Homo sapiens: one gene and its partners. The protein of the gene in region 2 interacts with the protein of the main gene of each other region in a biochemical or structural test. Each region holds a gene or a part of one and is shown on either strand. Other genes may lie near its edges.

The links.
Region 1: the proteins of RNF40 (region 2) and UBE2A form a complex in vitro, tested with the Homo sapiens proteins (3 studies listed by BioGRID).
Region 3: the proteins of RNF40 (region 2) and RB1 form a complex in vitro, tested with the Homo sapiens proteins (one study listed by BioGRID).
Region 4: of the proteins of RNF40 (region 2) and ATM, one has a biochemical effect on the other in vitro, tested with the Homo sapiens proteins (one study listed by BioGRID).

The regions. Positions count from the first base shown.
Region 1 is NC_000023.11:119,577,403-119,584,663, reverse strand, and holds the end of UBE2A (ubiquitin-conjugating enzyme E2 A), read right to left. Parts: intron 3,158-7,261; coding exon 3,068-3,157; intron 2,077-3,067; coding exon 1,988-2,076; intron 1,538-1,987; coding exon 1,409-1,537; 3' UTR 241-1,408; downstream 1-240. UniProt on the Homo sapiens protein: E2 ubiquitin-conjugating enzyme that accepts ubiquitin from the ubiquitin-activating enzyme E1 and transfers it to a E3 ubiquitin-protein ligase. In vitro catalyzes 'Lys-11', as well as 'Lys-48'-linked polyubiquitination.
Region 2 is NC_000016.10:30,772,061-30,776,807, forward strand, and holds the end of RNF40 (E3 ubiquitin-protein ligase BRE1B), read left to right. Parts: intron 1-28; coding exon 29-130; intron 131-1,877; coding exon 1,878-2,054; 3' UTR 2,055-4,247; downstream 4,248-4,747.
Region 3 is NC_000013.11:48,474,521-48,481,781, forward strand, and holds part of RB1 (retinoblastoma-associated protein), read left to right. Parts: intron 1-1,929; exon of another isoform or gene 1,930-2,002; intron 2,003-2,180; coding exon 2,181-2,323; intron 2,324-2,834; coding exon 2,835-2,884; intron 2,885-5,458; coding exon of another isoform or gene 5,459-5,477; coding exon 5,478-5,551; 3' UTR 5,552-7,261. UniProt on the Homo sapiens protein: Tumor suppressor that is a key regulator of the G1/S transition of the cell cycle. The hypophosphorylated form binds transcription regulators of the E2F family, preventing transcription of E2F-responsive genes.
Region 4 is NC_000011.10:108,366,023-108,369,819, forward strand, and holds the end of ATM (serine-protein kinase ATM), read left to right. Parts: 3' UTR 1-3,080; downstream 3,081-3,797.

The DNA of each region.
Region 1 (7,261 bases), on a different chromosome or scaffold from region 2:
CACTGTGCCCGGCAACATATTCTGTTAATATATTTAAAAAGCATTACCACTTATGACTGGAAAGAAAAAAAAAGTTCTCTCCAGAAGTATCTGTCTTGTCTTTTCCCCTCCCAGAATGAGTATTTTTGCTTTTACCTTAATGTTTGAGGGGGGAAATGAGTACATATGAGATCCCAATAAGAAACCAATACAAAAAGTTTATACTGAGCTAAAAAAAAAAAAAAAAAGATACCTTGACTATGAAATTTTAAGGTTATTTTTATTTACAACTTTTGAAAAATGTACATTTTTTTTTACATGGGTTACTTGTGCAAAGTTAGATTTGGAAGTGATAAATGCATAAAAGGTGACAATAGAACATTAGACAAAACATTTACAAGCCTTGTCCCATACTGCTACTTAAAGGTACTATATATCTAAAAGTATAAATATCCAAAAAAAGATCGCAGACATTGGCTTTAAGGTTCTCAGATGCTGAAAGGGAAGAAATTAAAGCATGCAGCAATAACTCAGGATTTGAGTGGAAAATAGTTTGCCACAGATATGCTATGCTCCCTTCCTTGAATTCATTAAAACTCTAAAATAAAGATGGACAATTGAGTTTATTCACTTAGGGCAGCACTGATCCTTTAAAAAGATTAAAGGAGCTCCAACTTTCCCTAGCTCAAAAACTCACGATTGTTTCCATTCCTCTGCTCCCACACCTCTTTTAAAAAGCAAAAACCCAGAAGACCAATAATTCTGAAACTTGGCATGAGTGTGCCCAGTCAGCAGCTTGCAAAGAGAGGATGTGTCAGTTACTACAATTGCTGTACTCCTTTAGCTGAGTCCTTCAACTTTCTCCTTCTTGCCAGTAAATACTACGTTGTAATTCATATGACTGAGATCTTAGTATCACAGGATTTTTAGCTCCCATGCCTCCTTCAAAATTGTTTACATGGATTTGTTTCTATTCTCTGTAGGCCATATTCCAAACACATTCACTTCTAAATCCAACACAAGTGAAGGACCAGCCAGGATGAAACACTTCAGCAATCATTTTGTTAAAAATAACATCCTGGTCATCAAGCTAAGCATAAGCACCTCTTGTATAACAATTCATCTTAAAAGCTTAAAGTACAATAATAAAAATAACTGCCTGAAAACTGGAAATGAAATACAACAGAAAAACTGAAGCATTAGTAATTTTTGCAAGTAACCCAGGTACAGTACATTTGATTTCATAGAGGGTGTTTTCTGATGTTTAAGGAGAGGGTAGAAGGGGTAGGAAAACTTGGCAAGGAAGATGGAAACAGCACAACAGTTATTTTGCTTTTAATAAAGTAAATGTAATGACAGGAGTAGGGAGGTGACAAACACATCAATATATATTTTTCTTATGGCCAGCTTCTTTAAACTGTACCCGGGGTCAACAATCACGCCAGCTTTGTTCTACTATTGCAGAAACACGCTTTTCATATTCCCGTTTGTTCTCCTGGTACAGCTGAGCAGCCTGGCTGTTTGCTGGACTATTGGGATTGGGTTCATCCAACAGAGACTAAAGAGACAATTTTTAAAATGTCAGTTCCTTAATGCAAAACAACTATTTTATAAGGTAGTGACACTCAATTGAATTGTCCTAAGTACAGCTACATTTCTTGTCTTTAGCATACAAACCCAGAGTTATGTGAATCTGCTAGTAGCTAGGAAAATATATGCGGCTTTTTTTTTTTTTAAGGGAGAAGAGTCTCACTATGTTGCCCAGGCTGGTCTCAAACTCCTGAACTCAAGCAATCCTCCCACCTTGGCCTGCCAAAGTGCTGAGGTTACAGGTGTGAGCGACTGTACCCAGCTGACTTGGGTCTTAATGGTCTACTTTTCATCTATAAAACAAACAAGCTTTGACCAAAAATAAAAAGATCTATTACATTATGACTTTCAAAAACAATTCAATTGCTAATATAAACATATTAAAAGTTATAGTTCGTCACATTAAGGAAAAATTCACCTGTATGGATGTTAGAATGGAAGACACATCATAGGTTGGACTCCAACGGTTCTGAAGTATGTCCAGACATATACTACCATCTGCATAGACTAAGAACAAAGAAGTAGGTACATTAAACGTAACAAGACCACTAAGGTTTTAACATTATAGACAAAACAAAAATAGTCAAGAATACTTTGCTTTTGAAGTTTAAAGATTCCTATGTTGCTTCCCAGTTAACTGCCTAAAAAGATAAGTCATAACCACCACTAGTGAAATAATCAGGATGATCAGAGAATGTCAGATGTGATCAGTATAAAACTGGAAGATATTTAGTGTTCATCCTTTGGAAAAGGCTGCCCTATTATCCAGGAAATCAGAAACATTTTTGAACAGGGTCCCTAGCTATCCACAGACATGTGGGAAATTCATTCCACCAAATTTGTAGGCTGTATCCCCTATCTGAAATAACAAAAGATCACTCAGAGTTCACAAGATTTCATTTTGGCATAAAGATAAACATATCTGATACCCTGAAAAATACTTCATTAACCTAAATAAAAGGCAAGCTGTTCTAGGCTTACTACTATTTTAAAAAGTGCAAAGTGGTTAAGTTAGAATCACCTGTGGTGCTTTTCTGACAATACCGTATGCCTGGCCTTCAACAACAGAATCCTATTCATTAGGTTTGGAGTGGGGCGAAGGCATCTGTGTTTTTAAAATGTTCCACAGTAATTCTGATATGCGTCCAATGAAAACTACTTTTCTAAACGCTAGTGAAAATAATTACAACACAAGACTATCCCAATCTGGCCTAGCATTAAAAGGAAACCTCAAGAGCATCCTTCATTTTGTTTAATAAGTAAATGACAAAGGTCATCAAAATCAGGAGGCTCCCAGACTCCAAGCAAAGGGAAAATACCTCCACTGCTTCAGTTCTAGGACAAGACAGCCACAGACAACCAAGAACAAGTTCAGCTTTCAAGAAGCAGCAAGCTGCCTAAACAAATACTCAGGCACCACAAAATACACAGGAAATGTGGAATACTCCATAATAAACACTATAGTAGTTTAAAACACTGTACTAAAAGTGATACTTGCCATTTGGATGGAACATCTTAGAGACAAATCTAACTGTAGGTGGTTTATTTGGATATTCTTCAGTGAATTCTATTGTAAGTTTAAATGTTCCTGTGGTTAGAAAAGAAAGATTTAAGAAAATGTATTTATCACTTTGTTCAGTAGTACTTTGTTTTTAATGCTATGTGGGTTTTTCCAAGTATTAAATAATGCAAAGATACAGGGTAGAGAGGAAAGGCCAGGTAAGAAATACATCTCTAGGAATTGCTCTAAGAACTACTCAAATGTGATTTTTTGTTTTGCCATTATTTTCCCCCAAACTTGGAGACAGCCATCATAAACACAAAATTACTGCTTACAAGATTTTAGCCACTGTACATTTTGAAAACATCCTTAAGAAACTGGGCCCAAAATTTGGCCTTCTTCCTTTAGAAGACCAAAAGACCTCAAAGGCCTATGTTAGTCAGCTGCCATCTTAAACGCTCCAGTGATTTTTAGACAGACTAGAAAGAATGAAAGCACAATGGTTCAAAAACCAATGCCAGAATACAAATCCATAATCAAGTTATTTTTAAAATAGAAGGGAATAAGTATAAAAGTGTTCATACTGGTTCCTTTTCATGTCATAGTGACCCTATAATGAAAACTTAATTGAATTTAAGCCAGGAAAAACTTCATAGTCCCTCTCAGAAACCCTTAAGTATGGCTCATAAGGTACTTCACTATAAAATCAACTCAATTATTCACACATATGGAGGGAATTAATGGCAGAAATAATTTTAAAATCACATTTGGTTTAGATTGCATTCATGTTTCCAGCAAATTTATTTTTCTAATGTTTATGCTACTATTGAAATGAAATTATTTTTCTTAAATATATGTCAACCTAAGGTAGCAGGAGGCCCTAAAGCATAGTAGGTTATAAACTTACTTACAAGGCATGGACAAACTGGATCTCATTCAAGAATTGTTAAGATGTGATATGAAGAGATTATGTCCTTTAAAATATTATTTTCAATTGTTTGTTGAATAAATTGAAGAACACAATTGAGCAATGTTTTTTCCTGACTGAAATCTGTTCAAGTAAACTTAGAAGAATCAGTTACTATATGGTATAAGGTGATGCATGTTCCACTATATTACTCTGGTCCATTTAACAAATTATTCTAAAACAACAGACCATACTTCAGTGTATTTCTTACTGGTTCCTTCAGAGTTAGCAATTTATTTCCTTTTTGTTCTCATTAAAAGGTTTATCACTGCTTAAGAAAGAGAGAAGACTATAATCATTCTAGGACTAGATCTGTGACAAAACAGTATCAAAAAGTTTGTTTTTAGCAAGCTCATTGGAAACAATTTGCTAACAAAGCTGCCCTTACTATGAACAAGTGTCTCAAAGCTTCAAAATAATATAAAATGCAACATACAGAGACATTATATTCCTCAAATTATTGTTACTCCCTATTTTCTTTTCAAAGCCAGACCTGAAGATACTATGTATTATAACTAAGAAAGTAAAATCTTATGGAATGGACAAACATATGCCCATTAGAAGTATGGAAGTATGTCCATCAGAACATACTTCACCTTTATCACCACCTGGTCATAAATCTTCCTCTTTCTGAGGAAGAAAGCACAGTTCTTCCTTTTCAGTATTTATTGACACTATAATATGCAAGAAAAAGTGGGAATGTGTTAGAGTTCAAAACTTTGAGTTTCCTTATGTATTATGATCTCAAGTGTAAACACATTTGGATCAATGTTGCAATCTGACTAAATTATGGGTAAGAGACACTGCTCTAAAACTGGGCAGATGTAATAGCACATGGAGATCCCAGCTACTTCAAAACCATCACTAAATATGGTATCTAAAGGTAGTAAAGCAAGACATAGGGAAGCCATAAGCAAAAACAGTAAAACACACTGCTAAGAGCATGAGCTCTGCAGTCAGACAGGTCTGGGCCCAAGTCCTTGCTTTGGTACTTACTAGCTGTGAGACTTTGGGGAAGGTGTTCTCCTTGACTAAACCTTAAGTTCCTCATTTGTAAAATGAGATTAATCATAGTACCCACCATATAGCATTGTTGTGAGGTTTAAATGAGAGGAATATGCATAGTTCCACAAAGTTAAGTGCTCCAAAACCATGAGCAACTATTTTTGCTATAATAATTCTAAAGTTTCACATCTCTAGACTCAGCTGAAGGAGGCAAAACCCAAAAATCAGAACTATCAGTAAGAAATATACAATTAAGGCATTCAGATATTAAACAGTACTTTTAGGTCTACATCAAACACTCACAGTTCAAAGCAAGTTGAGTACCTATATTGGTGGCTCACAAGTTCCTTGACTTGAGCTTTCTGCATACACTTGCCCAGAAGTTCAACTAAGTGATTACCTAGCTACCAAAGAAGTTAATCGCAAGTCTTTTAAAACAGTTCACTTAATATCTTGAGAAGTGAAGCAACCTATTTATGTCTACTTGAATATAAATTAAGACAACCCAAATCTTATTCAAGGTACACATTAAAAAGAGGGTAAAAACTTCACACTTTTAGTCACACTAATCAGAACCTGTTTAGTATAACCTTCAATGTAATTTCTAAGCTCTAAAACAAATGTTAAGGGAATTTAAAATCCCAGAATTAGTATTATGCAGTCTTGAGACTACAGCTTACCCTCTGAATATTTAGAAGGCTAGGCTTTAAAATAACTGAAAATTTAAGCCTCACCATTGTTGTACATAATGTATACTAATTTTGTTCATCTTCCCGAGGAGGCTAAGACATCGTAAGGAAAGTATCAATTAATCCATCTATACAGGGAGACCACCAAAATTACATAAACGTGTTAAGTGACTGGTGTATGGCAATAAGGAGTGATATGGTTGAACTAGAGGGGGTATATGTTCTGCCTAAAGACACTCACAAAGTCAAGTTTTGGAAAATACTGTGTTGGCCAAAGAAAACACACCTGCAGGTGTTTTCTGCCATTTGGCCACCAGTTTGTGACCCCTGAGAAGAAAGCAAAATACATATAACTTCAAAATTATTTTTGATGACTGAAAATCGATTTTTCAAGTAATATCCAAAACTCTTCATCATAGGATTTATTTATATTTAAAACACTCTTAGTGGACTTTAGAGATTCATTTTGAAAAAGATTTTATGACTCAGAAACATTTCCAAAAATTAAAAAAAAATAAAAACGATTTATACCCCAATTCTAAAGAACACATCTATTATGAAAAGCAAATACCAGTACCTTACCATGTCTATTAACAATTTTTAGATTATGTGATGAAGATTATATTCCATAACCTTTGTATTTAGCATGTATACCAAGATATTCTGATGAGGAAGCATTTCTCCCCAATGTTTTGGTAGTGTAAGCTCTTGAGAATATATTCCTCTTACTTCGAGTGTGTGAAGTTAAACCAAAATACCCTTAAGTGTTGCTTGTCTTAAGATTTCATCACTCTAACTAGGACCTGGTTGTTCCAGAAACTTCCATAACGAACGGTTTACAACAAAGAAGCAAAAGTAGTTTTGGGGTTCTTAATTAATAACATAATACATTGGAAACAGCAAAATCAACTATGCCACTTATCCCTAATCAGTCTTTTCTCTAACTGTAAATTCCCCAACTATAAATAAAGGGTATTCAAAAAATGGTTAAGGCTGGGCACGGCTGCTCATGCCTGTAATCATAGCACTTTGGGAGGCCGAGGTGGGCGGATCACCTCAGGTCAGGAGTTCGAGACCAGCCTGCCCAACATAGTGAAACCCCCTCTTTACTAAAAAATACAAAAATTAGCTGGGCATGGTGGTAGGTGCCTGCAATCCCAGCTACTTGGGAGGCTGAGGCAGAAGAATTGCTTGAACCTGGGAGGCAGAGGCTGCAGTGAGCTGAGCTCGTGCCACTGCACTCCAGCCTGGGTGACAAGAGCAAAACTCCATCTCAAAAAAAAAAAAAAAAAAAAAAGCTAAAATTTTTTTTGTGGGGGAACCACAGGCCACAGTGTTCCAGACACCTGAGGAAGCATCCATCGGTAGCAGACTGTTCAACAGAACAAATCAGCCTGAGTAATTCCTTTCAGTAATGCTAGGATGGAGATACACATCATCAAAAATAGAACCAGTAATGTCAAAGGTGACAGTCCTGGTAGATAATGGACTCTGTAAGTACCTTTTCAATTCATACCACTTAAGAGAAGC
Region 2 (4,747 bases):
GCCCTTAGCCAGGCCTCTCCTGCCCCAGGAGGACATCTCACGGCTGCGGCGCAAGCTGGAAAAGCAGAGGAAGGTGGAGGTCTACGCAGATGCCGACGAAATCCTCCAGGAGGAGATCAAGGAGTACAAGGTGGGGCTGTGGGCCAAGTTGTGCCCTATCCACCTGAGAATTGTAGATGCAGGATTGCTGAGACTAGTGGAGAGTCTGGGGACCCTGGAAGTAATGTAGGGCAGCAGAAAGTGGGCAGCACAGTGGTCACAGAGTCAAATGCTGTTTGCTGTACATGTACTGTGAGCCAGGCACAGTGCTTGGCTGGGTGTGGGTTGGGAGGCTAGGAACTGGCCCTGGTCTCTGACTTCTTGAAACTGACAGTCAGGGGAGGAGGCAGCCAAGTAATTCTCTCATCCCAGATGTGTAATATGATGGCAGAGGCCAGAGGGGCTGAGGGGACTCAGGGGAGGCCCTTCCCCTGGCCCTGGGGTCAGCAGGCTTCCTGGAGTGAATGTCACCACAGCAGACCTGAAGAATAGGCCAGACGTGGCTGTGAGGAACGGGAGTGAGTAGCTTTAGGCAAAGGGAACAGCAGATGTGGACGCTTGAGCGGAGGGGTTGCTGGGACAGCACCGGAGGTTGTAATCAGAGGAGCCAATGTGGAGAGGTTGGGCCGTGTCACCTCCTGAAGAGTGCGGTACGCCAGGTTGAGACCTCAAAGGGTTTTAAACAGGAGAGTGATGTGGTTAGATTTGTTGTTGGTTTTGGGCTGGAAGAGGTAGACTGGAGGCAGGGAAATTGTTAAGGTATTGCAGTCACTGAGGCAGAAACCAGAGTAGATGGGTTCAGGAGACATTTCAGAGGCAGAATTGCTTGGACTCGGGGGTGGATCGAATGCATGGAGTGAGGGAAAGGGAACACTTGGAGGACTCCTGGTTTCCTGGTTTGAGAAACTAGGTGGATAGTTAGTACCATTTAGGGGGTTAGGAGGCCTGCGGGGGAGCAGGTTCTATGGGATGGTGTCAAAGGATGCTGAGAAGGTGCCTGTGGGACCCCTTTGGGAGGCTGGGAAGGTGCTCAAGGCAAAAGGGCCGGGCTGGAGAACAGGCTTGGGGAATGTCAGTAGAGGCAGAGGTGGAAGCCACATATGACTTGGTCATCCCTTGGAAGCAGTTGAGCCTTGAAGGGCAGAGGCAGCTGGAGGCAGCCATGGGGTAGAGGCAGGCTTGGGAGCCTGTTCAGTGCTGGTGTGTAGGGTCCTGGGAGACAGGAGTGATGGCAGGGAGGCTGCTGAGGCGGCAGGCTGGGCTGGGATTTTAGCAGGCTGGAGGAGCACTGTTGGGGGATGCTGAGTTGAGTCAATCCATGTCTGGAGTTGGAGGTGAGACCCTCCTGGTGGCGGAAGAGAGGTCTCAGGCTAAGAAGGGACCCACGGCAGGGTCTCTGGCCAGTGTCGAGGCTGGGCCCAGTTGAGGGTAGAGAGAACAGATTTCTAGTTGCATTGCCATTCCAGCTGTGACTTAGCAAGTGCAGGTGAAGAGGTAGACAAGATTGGGATTTCACCAGAGGCGGCCAGTGGGGCAGGAGATGAAGCCCCAAGGCAGAGTCCAGGCTGGGCCTGTGGGTCCTTGTCCTTTTGAGGGGACACATGATAGCCATCACTGCCCAGTGATGAATCCGGACTCTGCTGATTTCTAGTGTTGAGACCTTGGCCTCTGCACCTCAGTTTGCTCATTCATAGAGTGCTCGTCCTTACCTCCAGGGTTATGGGAGGATGAGGTGCAGTCTCCAGTGTGGTGGGCTTGGCCTGGACTCCTCCTGCTGTCAGCTTGGGGTCTGGGCACTGTCAGAGTTGTTCCCAAGCTGATGCCTTTGCCTGGCCCAGGCGCGGTTGACCTGCCCCTGCTGTAACACCCGCAAGAAGGATGCAGTCCTTACCAAGTGCTTCCACGTTTTCTGCTTCGAGTGCGTGCGGGGCCGCTATGAGGCCCGCCAGAGGAAGTGCCCCAAGTGCAACGCGGCCTTTGGTGCCCACGACTTCCATCGTATCTACATCAGCTGAACCTGAAACTCAGGGGACTCTGGAACACCATGGACCCTGGGGGCTGTGCCCCCATCTCCTCCCCACCCCAGGTCTAGTGGCCCCACCCTCCATTCCGGACCCCATGGGCCCAGCCCCTGCCCATCTAGTTGGTTTGGGGACCCTGGTGCATGCTAGTGGGCATGGGATCAGCCAAGCTTCGTTCCATCTTTTCCTAAAGGTCAGAGCTGCAGCCTAGGGGGCACTGCCCTACAGAAAAGGTCTGCCTGAGAGGCCTGAGGAGCCCAGAGCACTTGACTGAGCTTCCCGGAAACTGGCCCTAACCTGTCTGTCTCCGTGGATGCATCCTAACCCTAAGGAAAATTCCCCAGGCTGTGATCTACCCTAGAGAAGGCTCGCTCCCTGCCTACTGGCTCACAAATGAGGACCAGTGAGCCATGTCCTTGTTCCTTGTTTGAGACTGGGCTGCAGGCCCCAGGAAGACTTTCCTTCACCCACCATCCCCCTAACCTCGGCAGGGCTTCTGTCCTGTGGAGTTCCCTGGACACCTTGGTCTGGCTCTTGTGCCAAGGGCTGAAGGAGGTACCCTCTTGGCAGATGGGGGCATCACTTGCTTCCTTTGGGAAGCTCTAAGGTTGCTGCAGTCACCTTCCTCATCTTGCAGGTGCTGAACCAACATCATCAGTTTCTATTCTAATCAGGCCCCTTCCCAATCTCCATTTCTCTGCCAAGCCCATTTACCCCCACCTCATGCATCCCAAGGCTCTACTGGGTCCCTGGACCTAACCCTGCTTTCATCCTGGTGGCCTTAACTACAGTGGAGGTGGAACTTCCCAGGAGGGGAAGGGACAGACCAGCCCCAGCCGCTGGGCCAACTTCCAATCATTCCAGCTAGAAGAGCTTCCCCCTGACACCCTGTGACTGAGCCTGTGTCCTGTCTGCCTGCCCAGCCATGCTCCATCGGCTGTGAGGGCAGTGCCCGGAGAGGCCAGAGGGTTGGAGCTGCAGGGACCCGTTTGGACCCACAGCCTCTGTTCTAGAGATGCTTGTATAGGCTGTTAATTGTGATGAATAAACGTTCAACCCTCGGCCTGCAGCCAGAGTAGCCAGGCCGCGCACCCCAAATGTAGTCCCCCGATTTTAGCTGCAGCAGCTGAGCAGCACTTTGCTGGCTTGGTGTGAGCCTGGGAGGGCTCAGACTTAACGGCCGGCAGGGATCCCGGACTGGGCCTGAAGGGGAGAGCGTGGTGGTCGTCGCGGAGCCGCCTGTCCTGCTCCCACCGACCCCGGTCTGACCACGTCCTTGGCTGTCATGGCCGGGGGATGCCGGGACTCCTCGGGCTGCATCCTGGGAAGTGTAGTTCCTGGTCCGCACATGGTTAGGAGGTTCTCGGAGAGAGAGCTAGTTTCCCGGTTGCGCTGGCCAAAGGCCGGCCTGAACTGGATCCTGCGGACCGCTTCTCAGCGGCTTCACCCCCACACCACTCGAATGCACAGATCGGGACACCTCAGCTGGGTGACTTCCCTCGTTGCAATCGGCCTCGGGAGCGGTGCGGCGTGTACCGAGCGGCGCCCCTGGGCTCAGCGCGCTGCAGGCGCCCCGGGCGGATCCTTCACCGAGGCAGGACTGGGGCTGGCGCCAGAGCCGGTGCGGAGCGGTGTTGGTTCAGGCGCTGGCGACAGTGCTATGGCCACGGCAGGGGCCGCGTGCGTCTCAGCGGTGGCGCCTTCGGACCCTATTGGCGCCCGGGACTTAAGCGGGGCCGCCGCTGCTGGACCAGGACGAACTGGAGAAGGAGACGCGGGCCGCCACGGTGACCTCGGGCGTAGGGCCGGCGGCGGCGGGCACGCTGGTGGAAGCGCGGGCCGCGGCAGGGGAGGACATCGGGCCGCAGAGAAAGTGCCGATGGCCTGGGGCAGCGGTGCGAGGGTGGGAAAAACGCAGGATATTGCATCATAGAGACGCGGCCACCTTCGCCCCTGGAGAGCGCCAGTCTCAGGAGCGCCGCACCGGTCACGGGTGGAGGTCAGCCAGGCCTCCGTAAGCGCGGTCCCCTTCCAGGAGTAGCCTTCGCCTGGGCTCTTGAGTAGATGCCAAGTAATTCCGCATCGTCTCTCTAGATATCTGCGCTAAAGGCCACCCGGTCTCCTTATCAGAGGGGCAAAACTCTCCTCGTGGGTCTTCATACCTAATAAAAGTCGGCATCAAACCACTTTTTCAAGGTCAAGTCCAAGGGAACGGGGTGAAGATCCCACAATGTCAGTGAGGCAGCAACCACTGATGTGGTGGCAGGAACCAAACCTTTTTTTTTTTTTTTTTTTTTTGAGACGGAGTCTCACTCTGTCTCCCAGGCTGGAGTGCAGTGGCACGATCTCGGCTCACTGCAACCTCTACTTCCCGGGTTCAAGCGATTCTCCTGCCTCAGTCTCCCGAGTAGCTGGGACTGCAGGCGTGCACCACTGCGCCCAGCTAATTTTTGTATTTTTAGAGACAGGGTTTCACCATGTTGGTCAGGCTGGTCTCAAACTCCTGACATCATGATCTGCCTGCCTCGGCCTCCCAAAGTGCTGGGATTACAGGCGTGAGCCACTGTGTCCGGCCAGGAACCAAACTCTTAATAAACATTTCCCATGAGGCTCCGGTGCCGGGAGGATTTGCCTTAATTTTTTGACTGCTTACCACCCCTAGTGGTCCCAGTGGCAGCGGTACCCTG
Region 3 (7,261 bases), on a different chromosome or scaffold from region 2:
TTATGAGTGTGATTTGAAATGAGATACTCCAAAATGTAAGCCCGATATCCAAATGTCACCAGCCTGTCCCTGCCTACTGGTCTCCTTCCATACATATGCACTTTTTGCTTGTCCTTCCTCTCAGACTTCTAGGATATTCTTTTTCTGGTACACTGATTAGGAATTGTTTGCATGAGATCCTGCCTCAGTGAAAGTGGCAGAGCTTCATTCTAGGAGATCCAAGGGAAAGCTTTGCTTTGAAACATTTATTCTAGGCTGCAAATCCACAACCCTAGTTGGCCTTCCATTAAAGTCACTAATTCAGCAGTCCCATATTCAATATGCATTACTGTTAATATGTTGCACCATCTCCATTCCCCTGAGAGCTTATATTTTTAATTTTTAAATTTTTATTTTTAGAGACAGTGTCTCACTCTGTCACCTACTTATTATAACCTCAAACTCCTCGGCCCAAGCAGTCCTCTCACCTTAGCCTCCCAAGTTGCCAGGACTACAGGCATGCACCACCATGTCCAGCTAATTTTTAAATTTTTTGTAGAGACAGGGTTTTCTATGTTGGCCAGATTGGTATTGAACTCCTGGCTTCCACGATACCCCGTCTCAGCCTCCCAAAGAACTGGGATTACAGATGTGAGCCACTGCACCTGGCCAGAGAGCTTATATTCTTATAGGAATGGGAAGACTGCCTATGTTATGTGTTGCTACATAATACATTACCCCCAAACTTAGTGACTTAAAACAAACGCTTATTATCTCCATTTCTGTGGGTCAATAATCTAGGCATGACTTAGCTGGGCCAGAGTTTCTCCAAAGTCTGTGATCAAGGTGTCAGTTGGGCTGGGCCTGCAGTCATCTCAAGGCTCCACTAGAGGAGCATTCACTGGCAGACTTATTCAAATGGCTGTTGGCTGATCCTCGATGGCTATTGGCCCCTCTATTGGTTTCTTGCCCTTGGGCCCCTCCATAGTACTGCTTGCTATTCACAACATGGCAGCTTGCTTTGCCCAGAGCAGGGACTCTGAGGGAGGCAGGGAAATAAAGAGCAAGAGAGAGGTCACAGTCTTATTGTAATCTAATTCTGGAAATGACAGCCCATTACTTTTGGCATATTATTTTGGTTAGAAGCAAGACAACAGTAGATCTAGCCCACACACGAGGGGAGGAGGATCACACAAGGAGGTGAATACCAGGAGGTGGGGTCATTGGGAGCCATCTGAGAGGCTGCCCACCACACTGCCTCAAGTAACTAGGGAGAGGTAAAAGTTTATATGCCAGATGACCAAATATTAAAATGTGTGTTACAAATAGTTCACGATGGGCTCAGCTGTCAGACTTTACAAAGGAGCTATGGGACCTTATAAGGACAGTTGGAACTGGCTAGGTATCACATAGTGGTCTTCAAACATTTTTGCTTGCCATAACCTCTAAAATAATTGGGAAAAAGTTGAATGTACTTCCATATCTTAAAGCTGATAATTTAAAATATTATACATTTAATAGCAGCACGGGATTTAGTTTTTGTTAAATTGTATATGTGCTCCAAATAGATTTACCATCAAAACCTGTTTTGAATTTAATATTGGGAGAATTCGCTAGTTTAATTTTTGGAAAATAAAGTATAATTGGCAAAGCTAATCCTCACTGTTGAATCTATCCGTCAAATCAGATATAATTTCTATCAGAAAGTCTATATGACTTGTCAACATAATACCCATAAAGTGAATCAAAAATTATTATTCATTGAACACATCATCTCTTATCAAATTCTTGTGACCTTCCTTCTGGTTGTATAATAGCCTAAAAAACAAAAAAAGGACAAAAGCAAGTTTCCAGAAAGCTGTTCTGACTTGCCTACTTCTGAAAAGTAGTCCTGTATGGTGGGTTCTGAAAATGAGGAACCAGGACTTGCAGAGTAGGCAGTTGCTGGAGGAAGAATGTGAGCTGCATGGGAAAAGACAGGAGGATTTACAAAGAGTGGGTGTTTAATTGGGGATGGAATTAGGTAGTTATTCTGATTTTTAGATTTTTCATATCTTTTATTTGGTCCAATGAAGCAGAAAATTTAAATGAAGTTATTACCTTTGCCTGATTTTTGACACACCTCAAACTATAACTTGAGGTTGCTAACTATGAAACACTGGCATTTAATGATTTAAAGTAAAGAATTCTGTAATTTGTAGACTTCTGAGAAGTTCCAGAAAATAAATCAGATGGTATGTAACAGCGACCGTGTGCTCAAAAGAAGTGCTGAAGGAAGCAACCCTCCTAAACCACTGAAAAAACTACGCTTTGATATTGAAGGATCAGATGAAGCAGATGGAAGGTAGGAACCAGTTTTGAATGTTTTCCAGTAGCCGAGATGGTCATCTGGGGAATCCAGAGTCTCAGCACTGCTCCTGGCTTATACCAATTTCTTTCATGCCAAGTTTATTTGGAAGTTGTGAGAATGGCTCAAAATAATAGATATGAGTGTAGTGCAAAGTTAAAAACATCTTACAAATTGCATACCAACATTCAGTGAAGATATCTAATAAACCCTGATCTTTTTTACAAAGCTATTGATAAAATTTTGTTATTCTTAACATTAAATTTAAAAATGTTTACTCTTGAAAAATATTAACCACTGTATTTTGTGAGAACCACTGAAAAAATACATAGCATCATAAATTTGTGACATTTATGTTTTAGATGGTTAGTTTTTAAATTTTAAAATTAAAAGCTACTCACTAAAATAATAGCATAAAGTAAGTCATCGAAAGCATCATAGTTACTGGAAATTTGAGTTTTCCATTTATAAATACACATGAAATGTTTTGCATTTTTTTAATCTGCAGTAAACATCTCCCAGGAGAGTCCAAATTTCAGCAGAAACTGGCAGAAATGAGTAAGTACTTTTTTCACCTTGTGTAAATGAAATAAACAATTGTTTACACTGCAAGAAGTCTTTTCGTTATATAAAAGAATGTATAATTTCTTCAGTTGGCAGGTTTGTTTATGCATTTAAAATATAATTCAATCAAGGTTATTTATCTACAAACATTTGTGGATTAAATGTATGATGTAAAATGAAGGTCATTTTTACCCTTTCTATGATCTTTCATGCAGGAAGACTAAGAAGTGAAACATTGCTTGACCACATTCAACACAAATGGCTACAGTTAGAAAATACTTTAGCAGAACTACAAAGAGGAGCTATTTGGGAGTGTTAGATATAGGGAAAAGTTTTATAAACCTAGCATATGTAAACATCATCACCCTTATTTAAGGAATAACCTTTGATTCTACCATTTTTAAACTTTCCTTATTTGCAAATCTTAAAACAATTTCAAACAAAAGTTTCCATTACTGGAAATCAGAATTTTAATAAAGAACACTTATGTCATTTTCCAAGTTATACAGAGTGATATCATGTTAGGGTAAGTGGAATTCTATTCAAAACTACTCTGAGACTAGACAAAAAAAATAATCCAAGGATAGTAGATGGAAAGCACATTAGGAAAGAGATAAATGTTCACTAACTACTATTGGGTTGTCTTAGGTAGTTATGGTAGTGAGTGTAACATTTCCCAGTATCTGCTGCCAGATCCATTGATAGGAAAAGGAACTGGGATTTTGAAAGAAGACAAATATTCAGGAGATAGGTGTTAAAACAATCATTCCTAGGTCACAGGACACACTAATGAGAACAATACCAATTAAAATGAGAGGCTTTCTTTTAATACATCTTTGTAGATACTAACTTTGAAAATAAGATATTTAAAAGGATGCTTTTTTTCTATGTATTTTTTTAAAGTGTAATTAAAACTAAATAACTAAAACAAAATTTTCTAGTTATAAATGAATCTCTTTTTGGATTTTATGTCAACTTACATATTCCTATTTTAACTCTTAAATAGTTGCATCTTTTCCCCTCAGTACATGAAAATAGACAAGAGGCTCATAACCAAAATCAGGCCTTGAAGACATATGGAAACATTTTGGAACCCACAAATATGCACTTAAAAAGGAGCTGAAAGCTGTAAAAACATGTATATTTTCTTAGAGAAGTGTTCAGTTGCTATAGTTAGTACATTTCCCAGTGACACACTTAGCTATGATGGCGAGCTTCCTCTGCCAGGCCAAAGTTCAGGACCTTTGTGCATCTACAAAATTGTGACAAAGCAGGCAGAATTTTAACCCCTGAGGCTAAGGCATTTCTTTAGGATGCTCTTCAGCTTTTCTTAAAGAATTACATTTAGAAAAGATCATCATACAATGCTGGATTGCCCAGAATGGAAGGGCATTCCATTTTTCCAAATGTGCTTCTTTATAAAGAACTCATGCCTACCTCTAAAATCAAGTTAAGAATTTTTAAGAAATTTAATAAGTATCCCGGCTTTGTCTATATTGTAATTCATAATATGCTTTTAACATGGCCATGCCCCGGGTAGGCATGATGGCTTATGTCTGTAATACCAGCACTATGGGAGGGCAAGGTGAGAGGATTGCTTGAGGCCAGGAGTTCAAGACCAGCCTGGGCAACATAGCAAGACCCCATCTTTACAAAAAAATCCAAAAATTAGCCAGGCCTGGTGGCATGTGCCTGTAGTCTTGGCTACTGGAGAGGCTGAGGTGAGAGAATTGCTTGAGCCCAGAAGGTCAAAGCTGTAGTGAGCCATGATCATGCCACTGCACTCCAGCTTGGGCAACAGAGCAAGACCTTGTCTCAAAAAAAAAAAATCCATGCCCAGTTTAAATGAGCTATGATTTGATGTATTTGCAGTACCTGCAAGGCATCTGCAAACATAAGGGAACCTATAGCTTTGTAAAGAATACCACCACTCACTCTGGCAGATTCAGTCTGGGCCAGCCGAGTATTCTAGTCTGCTGAAGTATATGCCAAGCATCAACCACCTCATCTCTAGAATAGTGGCCTACAAAATGGGGCATACCTGAAGTATGCAAAGTCATCTTTTGGGGTACATAAAGTAGAAGTTCTATTTATCTCATTTTAATGTTTGCTTGGGGTATGTGTTTTATAATTTGTACATACATACGTATTTTTGTGGTACAGGCTTGGAAAAAAATTTACTCACAGGGATATATGATTTTTAAAGATTTGGAGACCACTGTTTTTTTGGGGGGTGGGGAGGGAATTTTTTTTTTAATTGATATATCATAGTTATACATATTTTAGGGGTACATGTGATGTTTTGATACGTGTACACAATGTGTAATGATCAAATCAGGGTTATTGGGATATATATCACCTCAAACATTTTTCTTTGCATTGGGAACATTACAATTCTAGCTATTTTGAAATATGCAGTAAATTAACTGTAACTCCCTACGGTACTGTCAAATACTAGAATGAAGACCACTGCTTTTGCAAGGTCCTGAGCGCCATCAGTTTGACATGAGCATAATATATATGGCAGCCACTTGCCAACTTACCCAGTACCATCAATGCTGTTAACAGTTCTTCATCCTTTTTCCAGCTTCTACTCGAACACGAATGCAAAAGCAGAAAATGAATGATAGCATGGATACCTCAAACAAGGAAGAGAAATGAGGATCTCAGGACCTTGGTGGACACTGTGTACACCTCTGGATTCATTGTCTCTCACAGATGTGACTGTATAACTTTCCCAGGTTCTGTTTATGGCCACATTTAATATCTTCAGCTCTTTTTGTGGATATAAAATGTGCAGATGCAATTGTTTGGGTGATTCCTAAGCCACTTGAAATGTTAGTCATTGTTATTTATACAAGATTGAAAATCTTGTGTAAATCCTGCCATTTAAAAAGTTGTAGCAGATTGTTTCCTCTTCCAAAGTAAAATTGCTGTGCTTTATGGATAGTAAGAATGGCCCTAGAGTGGGAGTCCTGATAACCCAGGCCTGTCTGACTACTTTGCCTTCTTTTGTAGCATATAGGTGATGTTTGCTCTTGTTTTTATTAATTTATATGTATATTTTTTTAATTTAACATGAACACCCTTAGAAAATGTGTCCTATCTATCTTCCAAATGCAATTTGATTGACTGCCCATTCACCAAAATTATCCTGAACTCTTCTGCAAAAATGGATATTATTAGAAATTAGAAAAAAATTACTAATTTTACACATTAGATTTTATTTTACTATTGGAATCTGATATACTGTGTGCTTGTTTTATAAAATTTTGCTTTTAATTAAATAAAAGCTGGAAGCAAAGTATAACCATATGATACTATCATACTACTGAAACAGATTTCATACCTCAGAATGTAAAAGAACTTACTGATTATTTTCTTCATCCAACTTATGTTTTTAAATGAGGATTATTGATAGTACTCTTGGTTTTTATACCATTCAGATCACTGAATTTATAAAGTACCCATCTAGTACTTGAAAAAGTAAAGTGTTCTGCCAGATCTTAGGTATAGAGGACCCTAACACAGTATATCCCAAGTGCACTTTCTAATGTTTCTGGGTCCTGAAGAATTAAGATACAAATTAATTTTACTCCATAAACAGACTGTTAATTATAGGAGCCTTAATTTTTTTTTCATAGAGATTTGTCTAATTGCATCTCAAAATTATTCTGCCCTCCTTAATTTGGGAAGGTTTGTGTTTTCTCTGGAATGGTACATGTCTTCCATGTATCTTTTGAACTGGCAATTGTCTATTTATCTTTTATTTTTTTAAGTCAGTATGGTCTAACACTGGCATGTTCAAAGCCACATTATTTCTAGTCCAAAATTACAAGTAATCAAGGGTCATTATGGGTTAGGCATTAATGTTTCTATCTGATTTTGTGCAAAAGCTTCAAATTAAAACAGCTGCATTAGAAAAAGAGGCGCTTCTCCCCTCCCCTACACCTAAAGGTGTATTTAAACTATCTTGTGTGATTAACTTATTTAGAGATGCTGTAACTTAAAATAGGGGATATTTAAGGTAGCTTCAGCTAGCTTTTAGGAAAATCACTTTGTCTAACTCAGAATTATTTTTAAAAAGAAATCTGGTCTTGTTAGAAAACAAAATTTTATTTTGTGCTCATTTAAGTTTCAAACTTACTATTTTGACAGTTATTTTGATAACAATGACACTAGAAAACTTGACTCCATTTCATCATTGTTTCTGCATGAATATCATACAAATCAGTTAGTTTTTAGGTCAAGGGCTTACTATTTCTGGGTCTTTTGCTACTAAGTTCACATTAGAATTAGTGCCAGAATTTTAGGAACTTCAGAGATCGTGTATTGAGATTTCTTAAATAATGCTTCAGATATTATTGCTTT
Region 4 (3,797 bases), on a different chromosome or scaffold from region 2:
CCATCTCAAAAAAAAAAAAAAAAAAACAGAAACGTATTTGGATTTTTCCTAGTAAGATCACTCAGTGTTACTAAATAATGAAGTTGTTATGGAGAACAAATTTCAAAGACACAGTTAGTGTAGTTACTATTTTTTTAAGTGTGTATTAAAACTTCTCATTCTATTCTCTTTATCTTTTAAGCCCTTCTGTACTGTCCATGTATGTTATCTTTCTGTGATAACTTCATAGATTGCCTTCTAGTTCATGAATTCTCTTGTCAGATGTATATAATCTCTTTTACCCTATCCATTGGGCTTCTTCTTTCAGAAATTGTTTTTCATTTCTAATTATGCATCATTTTTCAGATCTCTGTTTCTTGATGTCATTTTTAATGTTTTTTTAATGTTTTTTATGTCACTAATTATTTTAAATGTCTGTACTTGATAGACACTGTAATAGTTCTATTAAATTTAGTTCCTGCTGTTTATATCTGTTGATTTTTGTATTTGATAGGCTGTTCATCCAGTTTTGTCTTTTTGAAAAGTGAGTTTATTTTCAGCAAGGCTTTATCTATGGGAATCTTGAGTGTCTGTTTATGTCATATTCCCAGGGCTGTTGCTGCACACAAGCCCATTCTTATTTTAATTTCTTGGCTTTAGGGTTTCCATACCTGAAGTGTAGCATAAATACTGATAGGAGATTTCCCAGGCCAAGGCAAACACACTTCCTCCTCATCTCCTTGTGCTAGTGGGCAGAATATTTGATTGATGCCTTTTTCACTGAGAGTATAAGCTTCCATGTGTCCCACCTTTATGGCAGGGGTGGAAGGAGGTACATTTAATTCCCACTGCCTGCCTTTGGCAAGCCCTGGGTTCTTTGCTCCCCATATAGATGTCTAAGCTAAAAGCCGTGGGTTAATGAGACTGGCAAATTGTTCCAGGACAGCTACAGCATCAGCTCACATATTCACCTCTCTGGTTTTTCATTCCCCTCATTTTTTTCTGAGACAGAGTCTTGCTCTGTCACCCAGGCTGGAGTGCAGTGGCATGATCTCAGCTCACTGAAACCTCTGCCTCCTGGGTTCAAGCAATTCTCCTGCCTCAGCCTCCCGAGTAGCTGGGACTACAGGCGTGTGCCAACACGCCCGGCTAATTTTTTGTATTTTTATTAGAGACGGAGTTTCACCGTGTTAGCCAGGATGGTCTCGATCGCTTGACCTCGTGATCCACCCTCCTCGGCCTCCCAAAGTGCTGGGATTACAGGTGTGAGCCACCGCGCCCGGCCTCATTCCCCTCATTTTTGACCGTAAGGATTTCCCCTTTCTTGTAAGTTCTGCTATGTATTTAAAAGAATGTTTTCTACATTTTATCCAGCATTTCTCTGTGTTCTGTTGGAAGGGAAGGGCTTAGGTATCTAGTTTGATACATAGGTAGAAGTGGAACATTTCTCTGTCCCCCAGCTGTCATCATATAAGATAAACATCAGATAAAAAGCCACCTGAAAGTAAAACTACTGACTCGTGTATTAGTGAGTATAATCTCTTCTCCATCCTTAGGAAAATGTTCATCCCAGCTGCGGAGATTAACAAATGGGTGATTGAGCTTTCTCCTCGTATTTGGACCTTGAAGGTTATATAAATTTTTTTCTTATGAAGAGTTGGCATTTCTTTTTATTGCCAATGGCAGGCACTCATTCATATTTGATCTCCTCACCTTCCCCTCCCCTAAAACCAATCTCCAGAACTTTTTGGACTATAAATTTCTTGGTTTGACTTCTGGAGAACTGTTCAGAATATTACTTTGCATTTCAAATTACAAACTTACCTTGGTGTATCTTTTTCTTACAAGCTGCCTAAATGAATATTTGGTATATATTGGTAGTTTTATTACTATAGTAAATCAAGGAAATGCAGTAAACTTAAAATGTCTTTAAGAAAGCCCTGAAATCTTCATGGGTGAAATTAGAAATTATCAACTAGATAATAGTATAGATAAATGAATTTGTAGCTAATTCTTGCTAGTTGTTGCATCCAGAGAGCTTTGAATAACATCATTAATCTACTCTTTAGCCTTGCATGGTATGCTATGAGGCTCCTGTTCTGTTCAAGTATTCTAATCAATGGCTTTGAAAAGTTTATCAAATTTACATACAGATCACAAGCCTAGGAGAAATAACTAATTCACAGATGACAGAATTAAGATTATAAAAGATTTTTTTTTTGTAATTTTAGTAGAGACAGGGTTGCCATTGTATTCCAGCCTTGGCGACAGAGCAAGACTCTGCCTCAAAAAAAAAAAAAAAAAGGTTTTGGCAAGCTGGAACTCTTTCTGCAAATGACTAAGATAGAAAACTGCCAAGGACAAATGAGGAGTAGTTAGATTTTGAAAATATTAATCATAGAATAGTTGTTGTATGCTAAGTCACTGACCCATATTATGTACAGCATTTCTGATCTTTACTTTGCAAGATTAGTGATACTATCCCAATACACTGCTGGAGAAATCAGAATTTGGAGAAATAAGTTGTCCAAGGCAAGAAGATAGTAAATTATAAGTACAAGTGTAATATGGACAGTATCTAACTTGAAAAGATTTCAGGCGAAAAGAATCTGGGGTTTGCCAGTCAGTTGCTCAAAAGGTCAATGAAAACCAAATAGTGAAGCTATCAGAGAAGCTAATAAATTATAGACTGCTTGAACAGTTGTGTCCAGATTAAGGGAGATAATAGCTTTCCCACCCTACTTTGTGCAGGTCATACCTCCCCAAAGTGTTTACCTAATCAGTAGGTTCACAAACTCTTGGTCATTATAGTATATGCCTAAAATGTATGCACTTAGGAATGCTAAAAATTTAAATATGGTCTAAAGCAAATAAAAGCAAAGAGGAAAAACTTTGGACAGCGTAAAGACTAGAATAGTCTTTTAAAAAGAAAGCCAGTATATTGGTTTGAAATATAGAGATGTGTCCCAATTTCAAGTATTTTAATTGCACCTTAATGAAATTATCTATTTTCTATAGATTTTAGTACTATTGAATGTATTACTTTACTGTTACCTGAATTTATTATAAAGTGTTTTTGAATAAATAATTCTAAAAGCATATACTAAGACTCATTCACTTTATTCAAATATTTGTGTGTTCTGTGTGCCAGGCATGGGACTCGTTCTAAGGAGAAAGCAGTGAGCAAGGCAGGCATAGTCTGCCTATATAAAGCTCCCAATCTGAGGAGGATAGGCAACTGACCACGCAGTGTGAACCGGGGAGCCTATTGCACAACCAGTCTGATAATGCTGCATCTCAGTCTAAATATCCTAGTAGTGTTTCTTAGTCGCCTCCTGACGAAAAGGCAAATATGAATGTTCTTTCTTTGGGCCTAGAAAGTGATCTAGTTGACATTTCTAGCCTAAAAGATCTGTACTAGAATATGACAAGTGCAAAGATCCTGGTATCCTAAATGCAAAGTTTTTTACCTGTTTATCATATTTTTAAAATAAATTCAGTCCTCTGGAGTTTTAGTCTCTTTTGCCTAGATTTTAACAAAATGCATTTTGCATAAATATAGTGGAGTCAAAGTTTCCACAAAGATTATAATGACTCAGAATTTGGTAAGTAAGGAGATCTCATAATAGACATTATCCTCTGAAAAATCCCTTTGCCATTAAAAGTACAGCATACACAGTTTTATGTACAACAGTATGTAGAAATATATACTTTCATTGTGTATGATCCAAAAGCAGTGGTTCTTAACCAGGGGTGATTTTGCTGCCTCACTTGATATTTTCAAAATAAAGTTATTGTTATTTTGATGGGAACAAAAT